3 separate regions of the Homo sapiens genome follow, and regions 1 and 2 are each reported to be linked to region 3. Evidence: microRNA targets listed by miRTarBase, many of them from high-throughput screens and not tested one by one. Region 3 holds a microRNA gene; each other region holds the end of a gene's coding sequence.
The links. Region 3 holds the annotated microRNA hsa-miR-6721-5p (UGGGCAGGGGCUUAUUGUAGGAG, at 1,943-1,965, opposite strand). A microRNA usually pairs through its seed, bases 2 to 8, with sites in the 3' UTR of a target mRNA and lowers its output. Matches are read on the target gene's strand: a 7mer-m8 pairs with bases 2 to 8, a 7mer-A1 pairs with bases 2 to 7 and ends in A, and an 8mer does both.

Region 1 (5,072 bases), not on the chromosome of region 3:
CACCTGCTCAGGGCTTCTTCCTGGGTACTTCCAACACTCAGAACACTCCACAAGGGTAAAGAGTAATTCCGAACTTTTTCAATAACCAGGGGCCCAGACTGGGGACAACAGAAATCCCTCTCCTTCCCCACCGGAGCTGCTAGAGTAGACAGTGGTAATGCTGCTGACAGAGGGAGCACCCCTGTGGTTCCCATCCTCAGCTGCTTCACTGGGGGGTCAGAAACCTCATTATTCTCAGAGCTGCTTTGCTTGGAATCTCCAAGAGTTGGGGCGGCACCCCCCCCACACCCTCCAGAGGATCTGCGACTAGAAATAACATGGCCAGCATGGAAAACATGTATCAGGACCCAGCTAGAAGGGTCAGAGGCTCTGCTGGGACTGTCACAGTCATTGTGGGCACATCTATTTGTGGAGGCCTGGAGGGAAGGGCAGGTGGGTTGTCTCTGCCATTTCCTGGGCATTCAGCACATATCATCCTTTGTGCCTGACCAACCCAGGACCCAGAGAGAACAGGGTGCTGGGTGAGGCCACCAGCAGCATGTCTCCCATATAGGAGTCCCATGCTTGAGGTGGGTAAATGGGGGGTGTAAAAACTGAACAGAGAATGTGCTCTCCTTAAGGAATGCATACAATTAGAGGCCCCTGTGAATTCCCTTGGGCAGGCCAGGGCTATAGGAGCCTACCCACAGCTCAGACCCAAATAGCAGTGATGAGTGTCCACCCCTCTTAACCTGGGCCTCAAATGGCCTATGCCTGGCTCCATGCCTTTTGCCTTACTGCTGGAGCCTATCAATTTCCTATTGAAACACCTTCAGTTGCCCCCCCTGCCCTCTGGATCTAGCCCACATTCCTTAACCTGGTACCCAGACTCTGGGCCCAGCCTCACCCCCTCTCCCAGTCCCATGGACCTGCTTCCCAGCTGTACCATTTAATCACTAAATGACGTTCATCTTCTACCTGCCCTGTGGTTCAGAAGGCCATTCCAGGTATCACCCCCTCACCTTGCTGAAGGGGGCAGGGGCCTCCTCTCTGCTCTCAGCACCATTGACCTGTCTATAGCTAAAAGTACCTTTTCCCTTCACTAGCCTGTGAGCCCCCAGGTCAGGGAAAACTTTTTTGTGTGTGTGTGATCCTCTCTGAGGCAAGGGTCTTGCCAACTTTGCCAAGGGCTCCACTCAGGCAGCTCAAGTGAATATGCCAGCATCCTGAGGCTGTGGCGACTGCTCAAAGACACTGTGGAATATGTAAGATACCAGGGAACCACCATGGGCGCTCTGCAGCAGACCTGAACAAGTCAGTGATGATGGAAGGGGCTGAATGGATCAGATCCAGAAACAAAGGAATACACAGGTCAGGAGAGAAACAAGTAAGGCAACAGACTCTTTATTTAATGTGGTTTAAAATACATCAAAATCAAGTCCCTGGCTGTTGTGAATACCCAAAGGAGACAAAAAAGCTGCCAGTGCAGCTTCAAACAAGTCTGAGTGGCCGGGCTGGGCCATAAGGAAAGCAGTTACAGGGACAGAAGGCAGCTCCCTTCCCCCAGGAAGGGCAAGAGGAGCAGGTGCCTGGCTGTCCCTGGGGTGACCACCTCTGTGCTGTGCAAGGCGGAAAGGCTGGGGCAGCAGCTGGAGAATCAGCTCAGCAGGCCTTGGCCCTCCCCCGTGGACACCAGGCAGCTCCACTGGCCTCCGGGTCAGCCCTCAGGGCCACCGTGATGGGGTGGAGGAGGGTTAAATAACCATCTTTACAGAAATAACAGTCTCCTACAGAAAGTGCCTGAGCTCAGCCCATGGTCCGATAACCTCATGGAAAACAAACAACAAATAAAAAAAAAAAGTGCTGCTGACACCTCTCAGAATCTGGTGGACATGAAGCTCTCAGCTGGACAAGGCCCTGAAAACAATTTACTATTAGCAGAGCCATGCGCTCTTGAGCTTCACCTGCTGTGGTCCCCTGGAGGAAAAGCTAGCAATCTAAGAAACCAACACAGATCTTGGTCCTAAAACTGAGGTCACAAGTGTGGGACCCACCCAGGTGAGGAAGACACTGGCCTTCACTCATGGATAGGCACCTCCCCTGCATCTGGCCCAGGACCTGGGCTACTTTGGAAAGCAGAAGCAGAGCAGCTGTAGTGATTGGTTGATTTGGTCAATGAAGAGAAGAAAAAGGTAGGGAACCTCATCTGCAGACTGGCCTGAAGGTCTAGACATGGATGGAGCTGTGAGCAAAGGCTGCACCTTGCCTGGGGCCCACATTCCTGACCTGGGAAACCCAGCTGGGGCCACCTGCTCACTGTGGCCTCCTACACCACCACACTGGGATCCAGCAGCTCCAGTCCCTCCACAGGCATTAAGAGGTAGCTGAAGTGTGAGTCAGGCAATTATGTGGGCCACTGTAGGCCTTTCCCCTCTCTTCAAGGGGGAAGGTGCATACCTCTGCCTCTTCCCTGCACCTCTCTCGCCTAGCAAACACTCTGTGAGGTTGGCAGCTCTTGTACCAGCTTAGCCTGGCACAGGGGCTGGGGTAGGGAAAAGGCCCTACTGGAGCAGGAAGAGGCAAGGACTACTCCAGACAGAGGGATTCAAAGGGGAAGAAAAAGGTCATGGGAAACACTTCACAGGACAGCAGTATCTCAGCCAGAGATGGCAGAGATCTCAACACTCACACAGCTGCTTGAGGGCACCTAGATGTGAAGGATACACCAGAGAATAGCAGGCAACTCTGATGCAGATCAGTGGTACCTGCCCTGGGGCAGGAGAAGGAGAAATGGTGTGCCATTCATTTGCCATCTCTGGTCTCAGTCACACATGATTCAGTACTTAACATTCTTTGTGAACCAACTTATCTGAGAGATTTAAGGTAAGGGCTAAAAGAGTGGGCTAGGTATGGAAGATGAAGGGACCTGCAGGACAATGAACTAGCTTCAAAGAAAAACAGCAAGAAGCAAAGCCCTAACCATCCTATCCATCTTGGTCTGAGTCATTCTGTTGTCCCAGAAAACTGCTTGGCACAAACACTGGCTAATACCCTGGCAAGTTTGCAACAGCAGAACATTCAGCATATAGAATGGCTCTACACAGTACATAGTAGTTATGTACTGGAGTGGGGGTAGAACAGGACACAGAAACAACTGTCTGCAGCCATTTTATGGATTTCTGGGGCCCAGTCAATAGTTCAATTTCATTTCTTACCTGTTAGACAACAGCTATGGGCTCCCACACAGGAAGAAGTAGAATCCCCAAGGACAGGCAGGGAGGTGCCAGGAAATAGAATCAGGACAAATCTTGAGGATTGCACATGTGGGGGTGGGGGCAGGAAGCAGAAAAACCCATGAAGCCAAAGAGGCAGCTGGACATGGGACCCAGCAACTGCTGCATGGAGACAGTGCTGATGGGAACTGGTGGTGGCCTCTCAGGACTGAAACCCACAGGTAAGCTTGTGGCAAAGCCATCAGAAGCCCTTTCCTTTCTTTTACCACAAACAACCTGATCTCACCAAACAGGAAACCTCAGCATCAAGATGGCAAAGGAGCCAAGTGGGGTGGTGAAGGAGGTGGGACACTGGAGGCCAGGCACCCAGGCACCACTGCTACAGCATCCCTCTTCCTTGGAAGGTCCTCAATACAAACACTGTCATGTGCAAAAAAAAAAGAAAAAGAAAAAAAAAAAAAAAGAAAAAGAAATAAAGAAAAAAACACCTTCAGAAATAATCCTTTGGGTGATCTCTTGTCAATCATTTGTGCAGGCTAGAGAGGCACCTGTGAATGATAAGGCTACTGAGAAGCATCATTGGCCTGGTCCTGGCACTACCAAAGGGCAGGGGAAGCGATGCCCAAGGGGCTCCTGACCAGCACATCATCCCACGCAAAAACATTCTCCAGGTCCCTTGTTCCAGGCAGGAAATCCCCAGCTCTGAGCGCCCTGCCAGGGCTCTGCCTAGGGACACCTTTTCCAGGTCTAGAGAATCAAAGGAGCCTCCAGAGCAGCTAGGAGGGCCTGAGCTGACCAAGCAAGCCCTGCTCACAAGACAAATGCAGTCAAGACCTGGGTGTATTACTTGTCTTGAGCTCTGAAGGGCAGGGAGGGGTCTGAGCCTCAAATCAGACAGAGAAATGCTCAAGTCACTTCTGCCAACTCACTGTGATGGCAGCTACAGATGACAGCCCCTCTCAAGACTCTTCAGCTCACAGACAAGCCACTGACTTCATCTGTACACACCCCCATCCCCAATGCAAGCCCACTGTACACTTACAGGTATAAATGCATTTGCAAGGCCTTGCAAAATGCCCTATGTACGTAAAACTGACCCACAAAATCCAAAATTGCAAGTGCCAGATGCCAGCCAGGTCAGAACATCCTGGCTTCAGCAATGGGCTGCTCAGCATGGGAGCCTTTTATGGGCCAGGCCTGGCTGGGCTGCCGCTCCCTTCCCAGCATGACCCAACACCAGGCTCTCTAGGCCCTGGCGGAGGTGGGCTCTTGAGGCCCAGTCTGGCCTGATGCTTCTGTGCTCGGTGCTCCTGGGTAGCAAGGCGCTTCTGTGACCCTGGGGGAGCTGGGTGCTTGAGCCCCAGGCCCCTCTGGCCTCCTCTCAGGGCCACTGTCAGTGAGGGAGCCCTGGCCACCAGCACTCAGGTCCTGTACCCTCTTGTTCAGGTCATTGCGCTCTGTCTGCAGTGCCCGGCACAGCTTCTCCAGCCGTTGGATTTTTACCTGCAGGCCCTCCAGTTCTTTATCCCGGACTGTTTTCTAGGGAAAGAAATGAGACCTTCAGTGCCGTGCCCCATCAACCTCCCACTTACCATCACCACTTGGCGGCAAACACTTTAACAAGGCTGAGAGCAGACCGAGTCCAAAGCTGGCCCCCTCTAGGAAACAGTCCTAGTTGAAGCCATGACTAGGCTGTCAGGTGGGGCAGCATGGTGCAGAAAAGGGGCACGGCTTGGAGATAACGTATTCCTCCATTTATCTACCACGTGACCTTGGCAAAGGACTTGACTTTTGAGCCTGTCTCATCTATAAAACAGGACTACTAATACCATCCTCAGAGCTCAAGAGAAGGTTCAATGA
Region 2 (5,072 bases), not on the chromosome of region 3:
CACTGCAACCTCCGCCTCCTGGATTTAAGCGATTCTTGTGCCTCAGCCTCCAGAGTAGCTGGGACTACAGGCGCCCACCAACATACCTGGCTAATTTTTTAGTATTTTTAGACAGAGTTTCGCCATGTTGGCCAGGCTGGTTTTGAACTCCTGACCTCAGGTGATCCTCCTGCCTCAGCCTCCGAAAGTGCTGAGATTACAGGCATGAGCCACTGCGCCTGGCCTATTTTTTTTTTTTTTTTTTTTTTTTTTTTGTAGAACAAGGTCTCTCTATGTTGCCCAGGCTGGTCTGTAACTCCTGGCCTCAAGCAGTCCTCCTGCCTCAGCCTCCCAGAGTGTTGGGGTTACAGGCGTAAGCCACCACACCCTGCCAATCTGAGCTGCTGCTAATGCTCATGTTATGTCCTAGAAAAGCAGTACTGGGGGGATGAAGGGGCACCACTTGTCTCCCCTCCCATCTTTCTCCCTCATCATGCCCCAGGACACAGCCTCCAAGGCCCCCAAAGACCCTCCTGAGTCCCACAGCCTGCACCGGTCCTCAGTCTCGCTGGACCACTGCTACCTCTCGCTGAGCGGGAACAGCAAGGCGCCATCCAGCTCCAGCTCCAGCTCCAGCTCCAGCTCCAGCTCGGAGGACAGCGACTCGGAGCCCCTGTGGAAGCAGCGAGAGGTGAGAGACACGGCCGCATGCCAGGGCCAGCAGGGCCTCCTTCCTCTCTCACCACCCTCTCCCTCCCCCAGGATATGCAGGCCAACCCTGTGGGCACGCCGGGCTCCAGCGAAGAGGACGAAGACACCACATGGACCCCCACCCGGCTGGCCTCACCCCTGCTGGCAGCTGAGAAAAAGGCCACGAAGGGCCAAGTAGCCAGGGCCCCTGTGAAGCCCAAGGAGAAGAAGAAAGGCCCCTGCCCACCCCAGATGAAGAAGAAGTGTGTCAACGGCTTCATCATGTTCTGCAGGATGAACCGGAAGCAGTACATCCGGTGGGTAGGGGGTCGTCTTTGGCCCTGGGGAAGGCCCTGGCTTCGTTCTCTGCCCGCAGCCTGGCCATGCCGCTCCTCACAACTGTCTGACACTTTTTCCCCCTCCGAGACCCCACAAACCCTTCGTGGACCACAGTTCTTCCCCAGAACTGAACCCGGCCCCATTGTATTGGACAGGGTCCATCCATTGTCAGCGCTGAAACCCAATTCAGGCTTTAGACTTCAGAAAAAAAGGAGTTTTTTTTGTTTTGTTTTGTTTTTTGAGACAGAGTCTCACTCTATTGCCCAGGCTGTAGTGCAGTGGCACAATCACAGCTCACTGCAATGTCTGCCTCCCGGGCTCAAATCACTGCAACCTCTGCCTCTCAGATTCTCCTGCCTCAGCCTCCTGAGTAGCTGGGATAACAGGCGCGCCATCAGCTAATTTTTGTATTTTTAGTAGAGACAGGGTTTCACCATGTTGGCCAGGCTGGTCTCGAATGCCTCACCTCAAGTGATCTGCCTGCCTCGGCCTCTCAAATTGCTGGGATTACAGGTGTGAGCCATCAGGCCCAGCAAGAAAAGAAAATGAATTGGCTTATATAACCTAGAAAACAAGGGCGGGTATAGACTGCCTTGAGACATAGCTGGTTTTAGGGCTCACACAGGCTGTCTGGAATCTTTGTCCTTTTCACCCAGTTCCTCTGTCTTCCGGGCTGGCTTCATTCTCTGGCAGGTGGGGTCACCCCAGGAGGCACAGGCTCGGGTCCTGTCCCCCACCCAAGCGACCCCGGGAGGAGGAGAGGTCTCTAAGGTTTTAAGCAAAGTCCTTGGGACTGACTTTGGTAGATCCGGTGCCAACCCTGAACCAGTCACTGCCAGGCCTGGAGCCAGGGGATGGGGAGGCCCCCCCCAAGCCACAGTGGAAAACAGCTAGTTCCTTTACAGGAAGATCCAGATGTGGGGGCCAGGAGCGGTGCCCACAGGTCCCCTGCACTCTCCTGGGACACCAGGTGCCCCCTTGTGAACAGCCGCTGAGTCCAGCTCCCTCTGCCTCCTCAGCTCCAGAGGGTGGTCTTGGAGGCCTTGTAGACCCACAAGGCTAGGAAGGGTCTGAGTTCTCAGTCAGGGTGTCCTGCAGACCTCTCCTTACCTCCTCCTCCTTCCTGTCCCAGATCCTGCCCTGGAACCGCTTCCACAGCTGCCACCAAGGAGCTGGCCCAGCTGTGGCGGGTGATGACCCAGCAGGAGCGGAGGCCATACTGGTGAGAGGCTCCGGCCCCGAGGTGTGGGTGGGGGGTGGAAGAGCCTCCCTACCCCGGAACCCTGCTCTGTCTCTGGAGCCTTGGGTGTCATGGCATGGGAGACTGGGCCGAGGAATTTGCGTGTTGCCCCTTCTTATGAAACCCTTGGGGGTGACACAGGTGTAGGGGTACCCCACCACAGCTAAGCTGGGGAACAGCTGAGCCCAGACATGGACCCCTGCCTCAATTCTTTTGCTGTCTCTGCCACACGACTTTCTCGGGGCGTGGTCTGATTTTCCTGTCGCTTGGCCACCTCGACTCCCCCGAATCCTGTCCCCTCCACCTTCAAGGAGCTGCCACCTGCCCTGGCTCCTGACTTTGAACACATCCCAGAGCCCTTGGCCGAGTCCCATCTTACTGACTGGGACTTGGTGGACCCAAGGCTCGCCCAATAGAGGCTAAAACGGTGGCCCAGGCCCCTGCGGGGACACAGGATTGGGAGTGGTACAGGGATGCCCGGGAGGCGAGTGAGGAAGCCAGGCCATCCTGCCACCGTCTCCCCAGCACCAAGGCTCGCAGGTTCAGCCGCCAGCACAACCGCATCGTGAAGCAGGACGGCTCCAGCAGCGAGGCTGAGGACTGGGAGACGCCAAAGCCCTTCTACCAGCTGCTGGCCGAGAAGGCCTTGCCGCTGCCCCCGCACCTCCAGTGAGAGGGCGGCCCCTCGCCTCGCTCCCCTCACCCCTCATGGCAACCGCGGCTCTTGCTGGAAGCCAGGACCCATCGATGAACTTGTCCCTCCTGGGCCTCCAGCCCCTGAGAATGCAGGTCCCATGGGACTGGGGAGGGGGGCACTGATTAGCCCCAACCGCTGGGCACATTTGCCTGGAGCACCAGAGTCACCCACAGCTGCCTTGATTCTCCCCCAGGCTTAGGAAGGAAACCCAAAATGAAATGCGGGGTGTCGGAAGGTGAAGTTTACCCACCCCTCTCCCCTTCCCTTCCCCACCCCAGAGCCACTCGGTTGCAACCCTGTTCATGCTCACCTCACCCTACTCCTCCCTCTCCTGTTCTATTTTTAGACTATTTATTGTTTTAAATAAAATAAAGCAAGTGGAACCTTTGTTACCAGCAAGAGAGACAAGGGCAGGCCCTCCTGCGTCCCCCTGCTGCCCCACTGGGGTGCTCCGTCCACCCTCATCTGGAGGCCTGTGGCTTGCAAGAGGCCTCAGTGCCACCCCCTCCCCAGCCACTCTGTGCATCTGAATGCAAACCCCTCTTCCCCTCGGGAGGCAGCAATGGGAAGGCCAGGTCTCGAGGTGGGCTCTGTGTTCAGCGCTGCTTTGGACAGACACTGGAAGGCACCCCAGACCCCTGGTGGTGGTGTAATCCGATAACTTTATTTTAATTGAAAATGGAGGCATAACATGTCCTAGAAAAATAAAGATTTAGGATACAAAGGAGACACAGCGGCAGGGCTGCCCCCAGGGATGAGGGAATCTTTGGTCTGGGCCGGATAATGAGGACAAGGGCTTGAGTCGAGGGGAGCTGGTGAAGGAAGACCCCCGTCTCCCCACAGCTGCCCCACCCCCCGCCCCTGGCAGGAAATGCCACACTGGGGAGGGTCTCCAGTCTCAGGGGCGCGGGGCTGCCTGTCCTCCACCTTCGGATTCCAGGCAGTTGTGACAACACCAGCTATCGGCAGAGCTATTAATAGTGTTTCAGGGAGTGACAGGGAGAGGGCTCTGGGGGCTGGAAGTCCGGCCCTGGGGCAGGGTGTTCCGCTTACAGCTAGTACCAAGTGGAGGGGGCAGGGCCCCTGAGTCAGGACCCTGAGTCCCCCACGTATATGGCAGGGCACAGCATGGGGAGGGCTGTAACAGAGAGGCCTCCCATCCAAAGGGGGATGGAGACCTGGACAGGAGGTGGCCGGGGATACAACCCCCAGCACCACCAGGGCTTGGAGAGGCCACCCAGGCAGAAGGATGTGGTGACTGGGGTCTTCAGCAACCGCATTTCTGGGGCTCCCCCCTCCCATTCCTGTCCCTGCGTCTTCAGCACCAATGTCGGGAGAGGCCACGGGGCCACACTGGGTCACAGTTCCAAGGGCTCCTCCACAGGCACCGACTGGAGCTGGGTCAGAACCTTGGCCTCAGCTTCCAACCCCTCGTCAACCTCACCCCCTGCGGTGGCCCCCAGGAGCAGCCCCTCAGGGTCGGGGTCTGGCAGCCTCAGCACGGTGTGGGGGGCCTGTGTCCCCAGCCCCTTTTCCGCTTCCAGCAGCCCCTCTGTTCCTGCGCTTAGTTCCAGCCCTGCTGACCAGACAGGCACGGCCGCGGGTGACAACATCAGCCCCTCTGGTGGGGGCGCCGGGAAGTTGGGCAGGAGGCCAGGGGAGTCAGGGGAGAAGGGCAGGCTGGTGCTGGAGGTGGTGGCAGCGGCGGGGGGTGGCTGCTGTGCAGAAAGGGTGCCTAGGGCGTGAGCCTCTGGGAGAGCAGGGCTGGGGGCCACCGGGAGGCCTCCCTCAGGCACGGAGATGGCCGTCTCTGGCTTCAGTGGCAGGGCCAGGCCGGGGGCTGGCGGCAGGACCTGGGAGACGAGCATGCTGGTGGGGAAGGTGGCGGTGAGGATGATCTTGCCCTGCTGCAGGGCCACACCCGTCACGATGGGGCTGCCAGACACAGGGTTGGCCAGGAGGAAGTTTCCTGTGGGGAGAGAGGGACCGAGCGCAGGTGAGAGCCAGGAGAGCAGGCCAAGCCAGAGAGAAGTGGAGACTGTGCAGCTGGAGGGCGGGCGGAGGGAGCCTTGTGGTGGGCCTTGGGGCACTGGGACTTGCCAGGGATGAGATGCCCTCCAGGAGCCC
Region 3 (5,072 bases):
CTGGGGGCAGGTTGCCTGGGCAAGAACTGCTTCTTCAATTCCTTAACAAATGCAACCACCAACACCCAGATCTCTCTCTCTCTTTATTTTCAGTTTTTTTGCTGTTATCCAGATAATTAATAAAAACCAACCACGCAAAACTGGGTCCCACCCTCTCCTTTTGCTCCCAGCCTACCTCCCCAGTTGTGGGAACAGGTCTGGAGTGAGAGGCAGGGAGTGGCTAATGCCACCAGGAAGAAATGAAAACTGGCTCAGAGAGGGGGAAGCCTCAACAGAAAAAGAAATAAATTAAAAGCCCTCCTATCCCCTCCAGCCAGGGTTCGTTCCTTTCCCCAACTCCCCAGGGGGCAGAAGTGAGTGCAGCACCTGATGTCTGCTTCTTCCCCTTGTGTCTGGTGAGATGGTGCAGCAGGGCTGCAGGGGGCTGGGTGGGGTCATGTCCACTGAAGAACTGTACTATGGGGACAGAAAACCAGAAATGTGGAGACTGAACTGGTATCCCAGAGAGTGCACGACCCTGGGCATCTGGGCAAGGGCAGGCATGAGACCTCTGAATTAGAAGGGTCCAGCCCCCACTGACAGGAGGCTACACTGGGAGGGAAGGTGAAGGTGCTGAGGAAAGCTCCCATGATGAGCCTGGGAGTGCTTCAGGTATCAGCTTCCAGCCAGAGGGCGAGAAGTCCTCCTCACAAATGGATGAGTCCATTGAATCCATGGACTTTGGAGTGGGGGGGATTTGTTCCAAAGAATGGATGAGTCCACTGGCCAATGTGGGGTAGAGGGGTAGAGAAGACCACATAGGAAGAGACTCCACTGGGGATGGAATGTTCCCCTCCCTTGTGTAGGCTGAGTCACTGGAGATGAGGGGGAGGCAACTGTCCCACAGACAAGACAGTAGGAGGTGGGGGTCAAGAGTGGAGACTGCACCGAGGCAAGAGTCCATGGATGGGGCCAAGAGGGGGCAGGAGTGGCGCTGTATCCACATTCACTTCAGAAGTTGAAGATTCCAAAGAGGAGAATAAGTGGGGAGAGGGGAGACAAGGAAGAGGGTTTGGCCCTGCTTCAGGGCCCACTGGGTGGGTAGGTGTGGGGAGGAAGATGGGGACAGATGGGAGGAGAGCTCAGAGCCAGGGTTCACCCACCGCCCCCAGGCTTCTTCAGATAGTCACCACCACCCCGGCCATCAGTGGAGATTTCCCGGAAAACAGTGAGCATGGAGTGCCGGACTCTGTCAGCCAGAGCTGGGACGTCATCTGGTGTCAGCCCTTCCGTGGGCACTGGGGGCAGCACCCGCACCTGACATTGTCCTGGGGCAAGGGGAGCACCATCATGGCCTGTCCACCCAGGTCTTTGCCCACAGGTGGGGCCCAGCTTCCGAGTGATACTCTTCCTCAACCTTTCAGTTCTCTTCCCCCAACCCTGGACAACCATCCCTGGGCTTGCCAGCTGCCACTTCTGAGGCCCTTCTCCTATACAAAGCCTTCTCCAATCCCCAGTTCAGACATCTCCTCAGCACCCCTCCAGCCCCCCTCCTCTGGGTTTGGCATTTACTGCTGAATGAGTGTTATTCATTACAGCTTTGTGCACACAGGCCTTATCTTTCCTGTTAAGATTAGTAACAGCCTCTCTTGGTGGGACCAAGTGCTACCCATCTGGCAGGGTATGGTGGGTGCTTAGTAAAGACTTATTGGCTGATGTGGGGTTAGACTAGATGACTGTGTAGACATCTCATGGCTCTGACACTGAATGATCCCCCTGCCTCACAGGGATGTCCTCCCAGCCTCTCCGGACACACCCTACCCCAGAACTGCTCAAAGCCCTCACCCGAGGTGAAGCGACGCTCCTTCTTGCAGTAGAAGTCTTGGTAGGAGGACATGACTATGGGGACAATGGGAACCTGGGGAAGGGTTAAAGCAGGTCAGTCCACAGCTCTCTTCAGAGACTCCTACAATAAGCCCCTGCCCAGAGATGAGGGAATGGTGGGGGTTGGCAGCTGAGTAGCAGAACGAAGAGCAGTAGTCACCTGGGCCTGCACTGCAAGATGGAAGGCGCCACGTTTGAAGGGCAGCATGGAGCCATTGTGGTTTCTCGTTCCCTCAGGAAACACCCAGACCCTCACCTGGGGGAGAAAGAGGGTCAAAGAAGACAAATACATATGGAGGAGTCAGAATAGGTGTGATGTTATAATGGGACCTTTGAGGCCCACTGGCCCTGCATATCAGTTTATTTACAACTGTTCTACTCTGTATCCCTCCAATCCCCCATTTCCCCAGGATGACTCACGTCCTGGGTGAGCAGGGTCTGGGCGACCTCAGACATGACACTGATGGCATCCCCCGTGCGCTTCCGGTCGATGAAGATGACTCCTGCCAGCCAGCAGGCCAGCCCGGCAGAGCCAGCCCACAGTAGCTCGCGCTTGGCAATGGGCACACAGCGGCCTGGCAGTACCTCCATCATCCCTTGGGCAGGGTGGGAGTGGGTGAGGATCGGGGTGGAGGCAGAGTGTCACAGAAGGCAACCCACCTCACCCAGCTCATCACCCTCTGGTAGGGACTGGAGGTGAAGGAGGAGACTAGGCAGGGAGGGGGGCCCCAAGTGAAGGAAAGGGTGACCAAAAGTATATGTAACCTGCTTATGAGGGCAGTTCTACCCAGGGAATGAAGGCCTGAGTGGGAGGCAAGGGGGCAATGTCCCAGAGGAAGGGGAATTGAGGATCTCTAGGAGAAGATATTCTAGGGAAGGTTTCAGGAGGGGAGGCATGGCTGGGGGAGGTGTGCCCTGTGGTGGGGTCTCACCAAGCAGATCGAGAGAGCTCTGGTGGTTGGAGACAACAACATAGGGCTGCGAGGGAGGGAAGTGGTGAGCCCCTCGCACCTCCACTCGGATCCCGTACAGGTATTTGATGTGGAGCAGCATTAGACGCAAGATCCTGTGGGGTCATGGCAAGGGGTCCCAGTGGGATCCATTGATGTCCATCTGCATGCCTCAGCTCCCCCCACCTTACTGTCTTTCTGACCACCTTTGCAGTCCTCTCCCCATTCCCTGTCTCTGGTCTCTCTCAGTCTTTTCTACACACACCATGCCCCCTTCCCCCAATCCACTACTCACTTTGTACCCTTAGGTTCCCTCATTGCCCAAGACCCCTTGCCCCTCACTTCATGTTCTCGACGTTGCGTCCTCGCACGGCACACACAGGGATGGCGAGCACAGCCAGGAAGAGGATCCAGCCATTGTAGAAGGCCATCTTGAAGAAGTACTTGGCACTGGGGCTGCAGAACCACAGGGTGGGCAGCAGGAAGAGCAGCAGCAGGAAGAGCAGCAGCAGCAGCATCCATGCCCCTGGCCACAAATCCATTCTGGCCACCTGCAGGGGATGGGGCAAGGGACAATCAGCCTGGTTTCTGGAGGAGAGTGGGGTAGGCAAGGCACAGAAGGCAGGGCTGGGGGCTGGTGCTATGAGGACAAGGGCCTGAGACACAAACTGGGGCAGGGGTCTCATTGAAACCTTCCCAGGAAGGCTCTCTAGGATGAGGGTGGTGGAGAAAGAGCTCAGGACTGCTCTCCCACCACTCTTCCCAAAGGCTCCGGATATATTCAGACAAGAGACACAAGACACAGACATCTACAATTCACAGATACCTGATAATAAATGACAACAAGAATAATAGCTAACACTTGTAGCTGGTAAGGGTCTTATAATGGTCTATACTTGTGCTGTCCGAGAAAGTAGCCACCACCTACATGTGGCTACTTGAAATGCAGCTAGTCTGAACTGAGATGTGCTGGAAATGTAAAATACACATCAGATTTCAAAGACTGAATAAAAAACAAAATGTGAGATATCCATTACTAATCTTTTATGCTGACTACATTTTGAAATTATAATCTTGGGCCGGGCGCAGTGGCTCACGCCTGTAATCCCAGCACTTTGGGAAGCCGAGGTGGGCAGATCACGAGGTCAGGAGTTCAGGACCAGCCTGACCAACATGGTGAAACCCCGTCTCTACTAAAAATACAAAAATTAGCCGGGCCTGTTGGCGCATGCCTTTAATCCCAGCTACTCGGGAGGCTGAGGCAGGAGAATCGCTTGAATCCGGGAGGCGGAGGTTGCAGTGAGCCAAGATCACGCCACTGCACTCTAGCCTGGGCAATGGAGTGAGACTCCATTTCCAAAAAAAAAAAAAGAAATTATAATCTTTTGGATGTTATCAGATTCAAGAAAATATATTACTAAAATTAATTTCACTCTTTTTGCCTTGTAAAAATGTGGCTACCATAAAAAAATTACATTGTGGCTTGCATTATATTTCTGTAGAACAGTACTGGTCTATACATTAAGTTAAACTCTTAAAATGATGCATATGATAGTCTAGAAAGTACTATTACTATTTACATTTTATAGGAAATAGGCCCAGGGAGGCTAAATAACTTACCTGAGGTCATACAGCTCCTAAACAGCAGTTTCTAGGTTAAATCTAAGCCGCCTGTGTTCCTAACCACTCCATTACGCTGACACTGGTATGTATTGCATATATATATACGAACACAGCACACAGCATATATGGTGATTGTGACAGAACACTCACAGCCATATACCCAAGGGCCAAATGGCAAGATTAAAAGTTCGTGTCACTAATGCCAACAGACACACAGTCATACAAAGACTAACATGTTCACACATAGACACAAATTTATAATTACACCCAGTGACAGATAAAAGAATGTAAATGCATAACTAGAAAAATCCCTCTCCACCCAGGCAGCTCCCCTATTCCTAGGTAAACTTATGGACATACCTGGAATAGCTACAAAGACCAATCCTACCTCCAGACAGGCAAACGAATCCTACTACCCTTTCCCTTCCTTCTAGTGACACTTTGCGTGGGCAGGTACAGTGTGTGAGGCCTCACCAAGTGAAAAAAGGAGGGAATGGAGTAAAGGTGACCTAACAGCACTTGCCCTGGGAGAGGAAAGGGCTCAAGAGGAAGAGAGGCAGGAACACAGAACCTGTGTTCTAGGTTCTTCCTCCTTCCTCCACTCTGCCCCAGTGTTGGGGGCAGGGTAACAATTCA

Region 1: the mRNA of TXLNA is a reported target of hsa-miR-6721-5p. Seed matches in the 3' UTR shown: 7mer-m8 at 4,077-4,083, 7mer-m8 at 3,817-3,823, 7mer-m8 at 3,313-3,319 and 7mer-m8 at 2,753-2,759.
Region 2: miRTarBase lists SIX5 as a target of hsa-miR-6721-5p. Seed matches in the 3' UTR shown: 7mer-m8 at 4,018-4,024 and 7mer-m8 at 3,979-3,985.

What each region holds. Positions count from the first base shown.
Region 1 is chr1:32,194,581-32,199,652 of GRCh38, reverse strand. TXLNA (taxilin alpha) reads right to left here. Exons shown (of 11, transcript NM_175852.4): 11 at 1,368-4,751. The coding sequence ends at 4,458. It also overlaps a transcript of CCDC28B not described here. Among named protein-coding and RNA genes, the nearest start is that of CCDC28B, 3.5 kb to the left of the region's middle. RefSeq lists an enhancer at 1-399.
Region 2 is chr19:45,761,198-45,766,269 of GRCh38, forward strand. It overlaps SIX5 (SIX homeobox 5), which reads right to left. Exons shown (of 3, transcript NM_175875.5): 3 at 3,588-4,914. The coding sequence ends at 4,304. It overlaps MEIOSIN (meiosis initiator), which reads left to right. Exons shown (of 15, transcript NM_001310124.2): 12 at 482-670; 13 at 742-986; 14 at 2,141-2,230; 15 at 2,774-3,344. The coding sequence ends at 2,921. Among named protein-coding and RNA genes, the nearest start is that of DM1-AS, 4.1 kb to the right of the region's middle. RefSeq lists an enhancer at 2,345-2,899.
Region 3 is chr6:32,168,142-32,173,213 of GRCh38, forward strand. MIR6721 (microRNA 6721) reads right to left here and starts at 1,975; the gene lies at 1,889-1,975. EGFL8 (EGF like domain multiple 8) reads left to right here. Exons shown (of 9, transcript NM_030652.4): 9 at 1-140. It overlaps AGPAT1 (1-acylglycerol-3-phosphate O-acyltransferase 1), which reads right to left. Exons shown (of 7, transcript NM_006411.4): 2 at 3,156-3,364; 3 at 2,796-2,929; 4 at 2,284-2,459; 5 at 2,024-2,119; 6 at 1,825-1,897; 7 at 71-1,307. The coding sequence starts at 3,355. The coding sequence ends at 1,135. It overlaps PPT2-EGFL8 (PPT2-EGFL8 readthrough (NMD candidate)), which reads left to right. Exons shown (of 16, transcript NR_037861.1): 16 at 1-144. RefSeq lists an enhancer at 1,158-2,357.